Regions from separate parts of the Homo sapiens genome. Here region 1 is linked to region 2. Evidence: fine-mapped expression QTL. A gene starts in region 2. The other region holds a variant in brackets. All regions are shown on one strand. Distances are between the middles of the regions.

Region 1 (5,364 bases), 25 kb before region 2:
GGGATTAAAGTTGTGAGCCACCATGCCCCGCCTCTGGAGTAGCACTTTTAATTTCACTCAAGAACAATTGGCTGGGCGCGGTGGCTCACACCTGTAATCCCAGCTACTGGGGAGGCTGAGGCGGGAGAATTGCTTGAATCTGGGAGGCAGAGGTTGCAGTGAACTGAGATCACGCCACTGCACTCCAGCCTGGGCGACAGAGCAAGACTCTGTCTCAAAACAAACAAACAAAAACTATCTGGCTAGGTCTGGTGGCTCATGCCTGTAATCCCAACACTTCGGGAGGCCGAGGCAGGGGAAGGTCTCTTGAACCCAGGAGTTTGAGGCCAGCCTGAGCAACATAGCAAGACCCCCTCTCAACAAAAAATAATCAGCTGGGCATGGTGGCGAATGCCTGTAGTCCCAGCTACTTGGGAGGCTGAGGTGGAGGAAGGCTTGAGCCCAGGAGGTTGAGGCTGTGGTGAGGTATAATTGTGCCACTGTACTCCAGCCTGCGTGAAAGAGTGAGACCCTGTCTCAAAAATTGGCCAGGCGCAGTGGCTCATGCCTGTAACCTGAGCACTTTGGGAGGCCAAGGCAGGTGGGATCACTTGAGGTCAGGAGTTCGAGACCACCCTGGCCAACATGGTGAAAGCCCATCTGTACTAAAAAGAAAAAAAAAATACAAAAATAAATAAAGAAAAAGGTGCTATTTCAGTGAACACAGTAATAAGAAAGGGAACAGCCTTATTGCTGATATGGAGAAAATTTGAGTGGTCTAGATAGATGATCAGACCAGCGACAACGTTCCCTTAAACCAAAGCCTAATCCAGAGCATAAGCCCTAACTGTCTTCAATTCTCTGAAGGCTGAGAGAGCTGAGGAAGCTGCTGAAGAAAAGTTGGAAGCTATCAGGCTTCAGTAGGCTTTTTTTTTTCTTTTTTTTTTTTTTTTTGAGACGGAGTCTTGCTCTGTCGCCCAGGCTGGAGTATAGAGGCATGATCTTGACTCACCACAACCTCTGCCTCCCGGTTTAGGCGATTCTCCTGCCTCAGCCTCCCGAGTAGCTGGGATTATAGGCGCAGGCTACCACGCCCAGCTAATTTTTCGTATTTTTAGTAGAGATGGGGTTTCACCATGTTAGCCAGGCTGGTCTCGAACTCCTGACCTCAAGTGATCTGCCCACCTCGGCCTCCCGAAGTGTTGGGATTACAGGCGTGAGCCACTGCACCCGGCCAATTTCTGTATTTTTAGTAGAGATGGCGTTCCACCATGTTGCCCAGCCTGGTTTCAAATTCCTGACCTCAGGTGATCCGCCTGCCTTGGCCTCCCAAAATGTTGGGATTACAGGTGTGAGCCACTGTGCCTGGCCTGGAATTTCTTTGATGAGAGCTATGCCTTGACAGTCTCATTTTTCCATTGTACTAGAAGGTCTGGGGCCCTGGGAGCTAGTGCGGCATGAAGGCCTGAGTGGGCTCTGTGCCTTGCTGACAGTGTTCCCAAGCTGAGTGGAGGAAGACTAAGGGTCTGGATATCCTCAACACTGAGTACATGAATTTCTGTGTAACCCTTCTGTTGTTGCTGTCTTCTCCTCTCCTGTGCCTGGTGTTCATCTGTCCAGGACCTTCTGTATTCTTTGGATAATAAATTTCTGATCTCTTGTCGGGTCTAGGTTGCAGCCTTCATAGGATCTAGGAGTCCACTGCTTTTTTTTCTTTTTTCTTTTTCTGAGACAGAGTCTCGCTGTGGTGCAATCTCTGCTCACTGCAACATCCGCCTCTCAGGTTCCCGTGATTCTCATGTCTCAGCCTCCCAAGTAGCTGAGATTACAGGCGCCCGCCACCACACCTAGCTAATTTTTGCATTTTTAGTAGAGACATGGTTTCGCTGTGTTGCCCAAGCTGGTCTTGAACTCCTGAGCTCAAGTGATCCACCTGCCTCGGCCTCCCAAAGTGTTGGGATTAAAGAATAGAGATAAGGGAGGCACAGAGGGGCTAAGTAACACCTGAGGTTATAAAACTGGTCATTGGAGGAGGTAGGATTTTATTCCTGAAAGGTTAATGGTAATATTATCGTCTCCATTTCTGACTCTAGTAATTTCAAGTCTTTTTTCTTTTTTTCTTGGTCAGTCTAGCTGAGGGTTTGTCAGTTGCTTTGACTTTTTTCAAAGAACCAACTTTTGGTTTTATCAATTTTCTCTATTGTTTTTCTGTTCTCTATTTCATTCATTTCTGCCCCAGCATTTATTGTTTCTTTCCTTTTGCTTACTCCTGCTTTTGCTCTTCTTTTCTAATTTTTCTGGTATCTTAAAGTGGAAGGTTAGATTATTGATTTACAATCTATATTTATTTATTTACTTTTTTCTTTTCTTTTGAGACAGAGTCTAGCTCTGTCCCCCAGGCTGGAGTGCAGTGGCGCAATCTAGGCTCACTGCAAGTTCCGCCGCCATGGTTCACGCCATTCTCCTGCCTCAGCCTCCCGAGTAGCTGGGACTACAGGCACCCGCCACCACACCTGGCTAATTTTTTGTATTTTTAGTAGAGACGGGGTTTCACCGTGTTAGCCAGGATGGTCTCAATCTCCTGACCTCGTGATCCGCCTGCCTCAGCCTCCCAAAGTGCTGGGATTACAGGCGTGAGCCACCGTGCCCGGCCTACAATCTTCATTTTTTTTTTAAATAGGCACATATGGGCCAGGTGTGGTGGCTCATGCCTGTAATCCCAGCATTTTGGGAGGC[C/T]GAGGTTGGGCGGATCACCTGAGGTCAGGAGTTCAAGACCAGCCTGGCCAACATAGTGAAACCTCGCCTCTAAAAATAGAAAATTAGCTGGGCATGGTAGCACATGCCTGTAATCCCAGCTACTCAGGAGGCTGAGGCAGGAGAATCGCTGAAACCTGAGAGGCAGAGGTTGCAGTGAGCCCAGCCTGCGCCATTGCACTCCAGCCTGGGTGACAGAGCAAGACTTTGTCTCAAAAAAAAATTAATAAATAAAAAATAATAAAAAAAATAGGCACATATGGCCAGGCATGGTGGCTCATACCAGCACTTTGGGAGGCTGAGACGCGGGTCGCTTGAGCTCAGGGGTTTGAGACCAGCCTGGGCAATGTAACAAGACCCCATCCCTACGAAAAATAAAAAATTAAGCCAGGTGTTGGTGGCTTTTGCCTGTAGTTTCAGCCATTCCAAAGGCTGAGGTGGGAGGATTGTTTGAGCCCAGGGGTGTGAGGCTGCAGTGAACCCTGATTGCATGACTGCACTCCAGTGTGGGCAATAAAGCGAGACACTGTCTCAAAGGAATAAAAAGGCATTGATAGCTATGAATTTTCCTTCAAGCACTGCTTTAGCTGCATTTCATAAGTTTTAAGCCTTTTTATTCATTTCATAATATTTTCTAATTCCCCTTTGGATTTCTTCTTCGAATCATTCATTATTTAGAGTATGTTGTTTAATTTCCACATATTTCACATATTTGTGAGTTTCCCATGTTTCCCAAATTTCTAATTTCATTATAGTGTCCTCAGAGAACACACTTTGTATTATTTGAGTCCTTTTAAATTAATTGAGGTTTGTTTTATGACCTAGCATATGGTCTTTCCTGGAGAATGTACCATGTCCACTTAAGAATAATGTGGCCCTGGCATGGTGGCTTATGCCTGTAATCCCGGCACTTTGGGTGGCTCAGGTGGGAGGATCCCTTTAGCCCAGGAGTTGGAGACCAACCTGGACAACGTAGTGAGACCCCATCTCTACAAAAAATAAAAAAATTAGCTTGGGTGGGGCATGCCTATACTCCAAGCTACTTGGGAGGCTGAAGTGGGAGATCACCTGAGCCTGGGAAGTTGAGGCTGCGGTGAGCTGTGATCACGCTTCTCCACTCCAGCCTGGTTGACAGAGCAAGATCCCATCTCAAAAAAATGAAAAAAGAAGAAAGAATGGTATTCTGTGGTTGTAGGGTGCCGTGTTCTGTAGATGGGTGTTAGGTCTACGTGGTTGGTAGTGTTCTGTGGTTGTGGGGTGCAGTGTTCTGTAGATGGGTGTTAGGTCTATGTGGTGGGTAGTGTTGTATTCTGTGGTTGTAGGGTGTGGTGTTCTGTAGACGGGTGTTAGGTCTAGGTGGTGGGTAGTGTTGTATTCTGTGGTTGTGGGGTGCAGTGTTCTGTAGACGGGCGTTAGGTCTAGGTGGTGGGTAGTGTTGTATTCTGTGGTTATGGGGTGCAGTGTTCTGTAGACGGGTGTTAGGTCTAGGTGGTGGGTAGTGTTGTATTCTGTGGTTGTAGGGTGCAGTGTTCTTTAGATGGGCGTTAGGTCTAGGTGGTGGGTAGTGTTGTATTCTGTGGTTGTAGGGTGCAGTGTTCTTTAGATGGGCGTTAGGTCTAGGTGGTGGGTAGTGTTGTATTCTGTGGTTGTGGGGTGCAGTGTTCTGTAGACGGGCGTTAGGTCTAGGTGGTGGGTAGTGTTGTATTCTGTGGTTATAGGGTGCAGTGTTCTGTAGACGGGTGTTAGGTCTAGGTGGTGGGTAGTGTTGTATTCTGTGGTTGTAGGGTGCAGTGTTTAGATGGGCGTTAGGTCTAGGTGGTGGGTAGTGTTGTATTCTGTGGTTGTAGGGTGCAGTGTTCTTTAGATGGGCGTTAGGTCTAGGTGGTGGGTAGTGTTGTATTCTGTGGTTGTGGGGTGCAGTGTTCTGTAGATGGGTGTTAGGTCTAGGTGGTGGGTAGTGTTGTATTCTGTGGTCGTGGGGTGCGGTGTTCTGTGGACGGGCGTTAGGTCTAGGTGGTGTAGGGTGCAGTGTTCTGTAGATCGGTGTTAGGTCTGGGTGGTTGGTAGTGTTGTCGTGTGTTCAAGTCTTCTGTTTCCCTATTGATCTTCTGCCTACTTGTTCTATCTGTTATTGAAAGTGGGAATTGAAGTCCAACTATGACTGTTGAGTTGTTTCCTCCCTTCATTTCTGTCAGCCTTTGTTTCCTGTATTTTGGTGCTCTGCTGTTTCCGTATATGTTTAAAACTTTACCTGTTTCTGATGGAATGACCTTTTTAAAATTATAAAATATCCTGCTTTAGTAGGAAATAGTATCTTAGACCCAGACAATCTTGACTCTTGAGCCTGTGCTCTTATGCCCATCCCAACTGCCCTGTCCCTGAAGGTGTGTCCTCTGGTATTTCTCCACCTCCTATATCCTCATTCATTTTGGATTCATCTAAGTGATCTTTGTCAACTTGGTCTTCCTGCTCTGGATCTTGATAAGACCAGTTGAAATTTTATTCCATACTCTGAGGAAGTCCTCAGCCCTTTGCCAGATGCCTGTAGATTCCTAGTAGTTCCCATTCTCCATCATCTTGGCCTCTGGGGCCTGCTTGCCTACAGCCTACCCTGGTGCTGTGTAGTTGCTA
Region 2 (5,364 bases):
AGACCGCCCCCCTCTCCTAGGGAGCTGTTCCCTGTACCCTTGCTTCCACAGTAAACACTTAAAGATCTCTCTCCCTTGTGGGCCAGCATAGATCCCCCAGTTTACACCAATCCCAGGCCATAGTTGGGCTAACAGATGCTTGTTTGATGAATGACTATATGAAGGCAACTACGGCCAGTCTGCTGCTTCTACTGTACAGATGGGGAAACTGAGACCAGGCCTGGGACTGTTTCCCTGAATGCTTGCCACAGCTTGTGGGGATATGCGCCTGAAGACCCAGTGCCTCCTTCCCTCGGCTGGGGCAGTGGGCCTGGCTGAGGTTCCAGGACTGCGGCCCCTCTTCCCTCTGCCCAAACCCCCGGGCCCAGGGCCTCCAGGAAGCCTCCTCTGCCTGTTGTTCACCCCAAGCTGTGTGGTTGCAACTTGAGCTGTTTCCAGGCCTTCCTCCCATGACTCTGTTGAAGTCATTCTCGGTCCTTGGCCTTTGAGATCATCAACCCTGGACTGGGATCCCGGCCAGCCCCAGCTGGTCCCCAGGGCCATCACTGCCTGTAGTCATGAGACAGTGGTTGCCCGTGTCCCACGGACCGACACACCCAGCCCTCAGTGTTTCTTGCATGGTTCAGGAAGGTAGACAGAATTCCTTCTCACCCATGACCTAGTTGGGAGTGCCATTGTCCCCAGATGCCGGCCCCCTCCTCTCCCGTGCTTTAGAGGGGCCTAGTCCTTCCCTGAGTCCAGTGTTCTCGGGAACTTTGACTCCTGGTGCCCACAGAAGGCTGCATGCAGAGAGGCAGTGCACTGTGCCCAACAGAGGCTGTGATGGCCATCACTGTCCCCACCACACTCTATGAAGCTCTAGGGCAGGCATGGCCAGGCCACCCACAGCTGGGTCTGAGCCCAGCTGGGCCCCTCTGCCTTCATGGCCACCCGGTCTGCACTCTCTGCTGTGGTGTGGCTGGGAGCACTGTACTTAAGGGCTTGCACAAGGCCGCCATGTCCACCCCAGCAATTGTGGGAAGTGGTGAGCGGAGGCAGGGGTGCCCCCATGGTGCAGCTAGGAAAAGAGGCCCCAGAAGGGGAGTGGAGTGCCCATGAGAGGGGGAGGGGCCACCTGGAAGACAGGATTCCTGGGCTAGGTTTGGGTCAGTGGAGAGCAAACTTGGCTGCTGGTGCCCTCGAGGCTTGAACAAAACAGGGAGCCCCAGTCCTCAGGCGGGCCTGTGGCAGTGGAGTGGGAAAGGGCTCTGTGTATCCAGAGGCGCCTTCTAGAACTGGTGGAGGGGCGAGGGGCAGGCATGGGTGGGGCCTTTAGTTCTGAGGCCATCGCTTCCCCCTTCAGGTGCCCTAGACACCAGGGGTCAGCACTGATACTTGGCCTGGATGTGACTGGATGCCATGTCCCCCATCCTGGTGTCCAGATTCCCACCATAACAGAAAAGGCTGGGCTGAAGCCAGCACAGGGCAGTGCCCCCATGACCTCCAGCCCCTGGAGCTGGGCAGGCCAGATGCCTCCTTCTCAGTGCACCTCATCTGAGTCTCCTCCTTAGAGCAGCTGGAGGGCTGGGAAGAGCAGGGATCAGGTTCTCCCAGCCACTAGTCCTCGTCCTGCCCCCTAGGGGTGAGTCCATCAGGGCCCTCCGCAGACCTTCCCCACCCACAGGCGAGATGACCCAGAGAGGGGAAGGCCCGGGTCCCTGCATACAGCACTGGCTGTGTCGGAAGGGCCCCCTGGTCTCGGTCCCTTTCCCCTGGCCCAGGGTGTAGGGATGGGAGATGGGGAGGGGACACAGATGCTGTGGGGGCGTGGAGTCCCACAGGGCTGTTTCTCCATCTGTGACACACATGCCTTTACTGGGCCAGGGGGAACTGACGACTGCAACCCTCTCCCCAGCACCCTTGTACCCGGGCTCCCCAGCCCCCCCCGGAGCTCTGGGCTTGGCATCTCCAGCTCCTCAGCAAAGGGGCAGGGCCTGGACGATGGCCTTCCCTTGCCGCAGGACCACTGCTTCTCAGAGGCCAGAACAGCCTTCCTGCTGCCCGGCCCCTGGCCAGAGTCCCTGTCGGCCCCCAGCAAACTCGCTGCCCCAGCTCACCCCTCAGTCCGTGCCCAACAGACCCTACCACGTCCCAGTCCGTGGGGCCCGCCTTTGCCCCCCGTGACAGCCGGGTCGGGCCCGGGCCACCTCTCATCTCCAGCCCTGGGCCGTTAGGCCTGTCCTCAAGACCCCCGGGGCCCCGGATCCCACCTGGTGCGGAGAAGGCGCTTGGGCTCGCTGGGTGCGTGGAACTGGGCCGGCCGTCGGGTCTGGACTCCAGGCGGGGGCGGGGCGTGGCGGCCGGGCCTTACAAGGCAGAAGAATGTGCGCGGGGCGGGGCCGCGGGCGGGGTGCGGGGGCCCTCGGCTGCCGTCCGGCCTTATTTGGCCTCGACCCACGGGCTGGCAGGCGGGGGCGCTCTGGGGTGAGCCCCCCTTCCTTGCTGTGCCAGCCCGGGCTGCACAGAGGGCCTTGTAGGGAGGGGAGGTGATGGGGTGAGCAGGCAATGGGAGAGGGGGTGTGGGGGTTCGCTCTGGGCCACCCCTTCCCCTCCAGAGAGGCAAACGGAATGTCCAGGGCCGCTTCCCCAGAGGCCTCCCACTTGTATGGGCCGTGGGAGTGCAGCTTCCCCTGACGGGCAACGGCTCTCGACGTGGGGAGGGCAGAGGCGGTGGGTGGGGGGGCTCCCAGGGACCCCTACGCCCGGTGACTCGCTCTGTCCACATCAGCGGTCGCCCGCCAGAGCGGGGTTGAAGGAACCACTCGGGAAGCACTGGTTTCGTGGAGGGAAACACGATGAACAAGTAGCTCCGCGGCCTGGGGCCTCAAAGGAGAAGGGGACCTGGGGGGAGCGTGGGCTGTTCCGCAGGGTGCTCTGGGCAGTGACATTGGGCAGACAGGAGGTGCAGGGGTGCGCCCCGCCGTGAGGGCTCCCGGGCTTGGGGTCGCCGGCAGCAGGAGGTCAGGAGGATGGGGGCGGGAGCCGGAGGGGCTGAGAAGCAGCAGGGACCCCTCTGTGGCTCCCTGTAGGCCATGTGGGGTGTCGGAGGGTTCCGAGCAGGGGGTGACGACCTGGCTTGGGTTTTGACGGAATCCTTCTGGGTGATGTGTTGAAAATAGCGCAGAGGGGGCCGAGTCCACGAGCAGGGGACCTGTGAGGAGCGACCCAGCAAGGATCAGGCTGATCCGGACTAGCGGGGAGGCCGAGGGACAAGTGCTAAAACTATTTCCGAGGTGCAGCCGGTAGGATCTGCTGGGGCATGGGAATGGGTGTGAAAGAAAAGAGTTAGGGTGGACTCTCAGAGTTTTGATGTGAGCAACGAGAAAGAGCTGCCATTTTCTATGATGGGTTTGCTGTGTGGAGCAGTTTGGGGATAAGAAACTCTATTTTGGACAGATTAATTTTTAAAAACTTTATTTTGAAATGATTTCAGACTTAGGATAAAGTTAGAAGAACTGTGCAAAGAACCCTGTATAGCTTCATCTAGATTCTCCATTTGTTACCATTGGGTTTTATTATATTTTCTTCTTGCTTTCCATATACATATACATATATATAATACATGTACATACATTTATATTTATTTATTCCTACCCCCAACCATTTGAGAGTTTCTTGCATACGTATGTCCTGTTATCTCTACATGTTTCAGTGAGTACCTCCTAAAAAGGAGATTCTCTTAAATATGCATAGTACAATGATAAAAGTCAGGACAATTTTCACATTGATTTAATTACCTAATTTACAGTCCATATTCAGGTTGTGCCAGTTATCCCAATAATGTCCTTTAGAGGAATTTTTTCTGGTCTAGGAGCCAAAGTAAGATCATTTGTCATCACATTTCTTCAGTGTCCCAGTTTTACATTTTATTTTTTGATTGTGGTAAAATATACATAACATAAAATTACCATTTTCAGCGTGTTTTTTTTTTTTTTTTTTTTTTTGAGATGGAGTCTCCCTCTGTCGCCCAGGCTGGAGTGCAGTGGCGCCATCTCAGCTGACTGCAAGCTCCGCCTCCCAGGTTCATGCCATTTTCAGCATTTTTAAGTGTATAGTTTGGTGGCATTAAGTATATTCACTTTGTTTTGCAACCATCACCACCATCCATCTCCAGAGCACTTTCATCTTCCTCAGCCGAAACTCCCTGCCAGTTAAACACTAACTCCACCTTGCCCCCTTCTCCCCGCCCCTGGCAGTCATCATTCATCTTTCTGTTTTCTGTGAGTTTATCTACTTATTGGGGCCTCATGTAAGTGGAATCATATAGCATTCGACCTTTTGTCACTGGCTTATTTCACCCAGCATAATGTCCTCAAGCCCCAGGTTCATCCATGTTTAGTGTATATCAGAATTTCTTTTTGGGGGTGGGGGGTTGAGATAGGGTCTCACTCTGTCGCCGTGGGTGGCATGCAGTGGCACAATTATAGCTCACTGCAGCCTTGACCTCCTGGGCTCAAGCAATCCCCCTGCTTTGACCCCCTCAAGTAGCTAGGGCTGCAAGCATGCACCAGCACACCCGGCTAAGTTTTCTTTTTTTTTTTTGAAACGGAGTCTCGCTCTGTCACCCAGGCTGGAGTCCAGTGGCGCGATCTCGGCTCACTGCAAGCTCTGCCTCCCGGGTTCATGCCATTCTCCTGCCTCAGCCTTCCGAGTAGCTGGGACTACAGGCGCCCGCCACCATGCCCGGCTAATTTTTTTTTTTTGTATGTTTAGTAGAGACGGGGTTTCACCGTGTTAGTCAGGATGGTCTCGATCTCCTGACCTCATTATCTGCCCGCCTCAGCCTCCCAAAGTGCTGGGATTACAGATGTGAGCCACTGCGCCCGGCCCACACCTGGCTAAGTTTTCTACTTTTGTAGAAACAGGGTCTCCCTGTGTTGCCCAGCCTGGTCTCAAACTTCTAGCCTCAAGCAGTCGTCCTGCCTGGACCTCCCAAAGTGCTGGGATTATAGGCCTGAGCCACTGTGCTTGGCCCCGGCTAATTTTTTAAAAAATTCTTTTTGTAGAAGTGGGATTTTGCCATGTTGCCCAGGCTCTCGTCCTTTTTAAGGCTGAATAATATTCCATTGTTTGCATAGTTTGTTTATCTACTCATCATGGATGGACACTTGGGTTGCTTCCACTTTTTGGCTATTCTGAATAATGCTTCAGTGAACATGGGTCTCTTCAAGTTCCTGCTATTGTTTTTTTAACCTGACATTGTGAACATATAAGTCTCTGTTTTCAATTCTTTTGGGTATGTGCCCAGAAATGGAATTGCTGGATCAAATGGTTATTCTATTTTTAACATTCCGAGGAACTGCAATAACTGTTTTCTGTAGTGGC

Direction of the effects. Alleles are on the strand shown, and positions count from the first base shown. SD is a standard deviation of normalised expression in the study named.
With allele C in place of T in region 1, the expression in whole blood of the gene that starts at base 2,292 in region 2 is higher (moderate effect, 0.44 SD a copy in Lepik 2017).

The links. PIP is the estimated chance that this variant, and not a neighbour inherited with it, causes the effect. A credible set is the group of variants that fine-mapping cannot tell apart.
Region 1: its variant is the best candidate, but not a certain one, in a credible set for the expression of MYL9 in whole blood (Lepik 2017, PIP 0.71).

The regions. Positions count from the first base shown.
Region 1 is chr20:36,563,636-36,568,999 of GRCh38, reverse strand. The region is part of intron 2 of DLGAP4-AS1 (DLGAP4 antisense RNA 1); the gene reads left to right. Among named protein-coding and RNA genes, the nearest start is that of DLGAP4-AS1, 7.0 kb to the left of the region's middle. The variant C/T (reference allele first, on the strand shown) is at 2,716.
Region 2 is chr20:36,538,447-36,543,810 of GRCh38, reverse strand. MYL9 (myosin light chain 9) reads right to left here and starts at 2,292. Exons shown (of 4, transcript NM_006097.5): 1 at 2,250-2,292. All of the region lies in intron 2 of DLGAP4-AS1 (DLGAP4 antisense RNA 1), which reads left to right. RefSeq lists enhancers at 1-183, 184-837, 838-1,491 and a silencer at 2,272-2,471.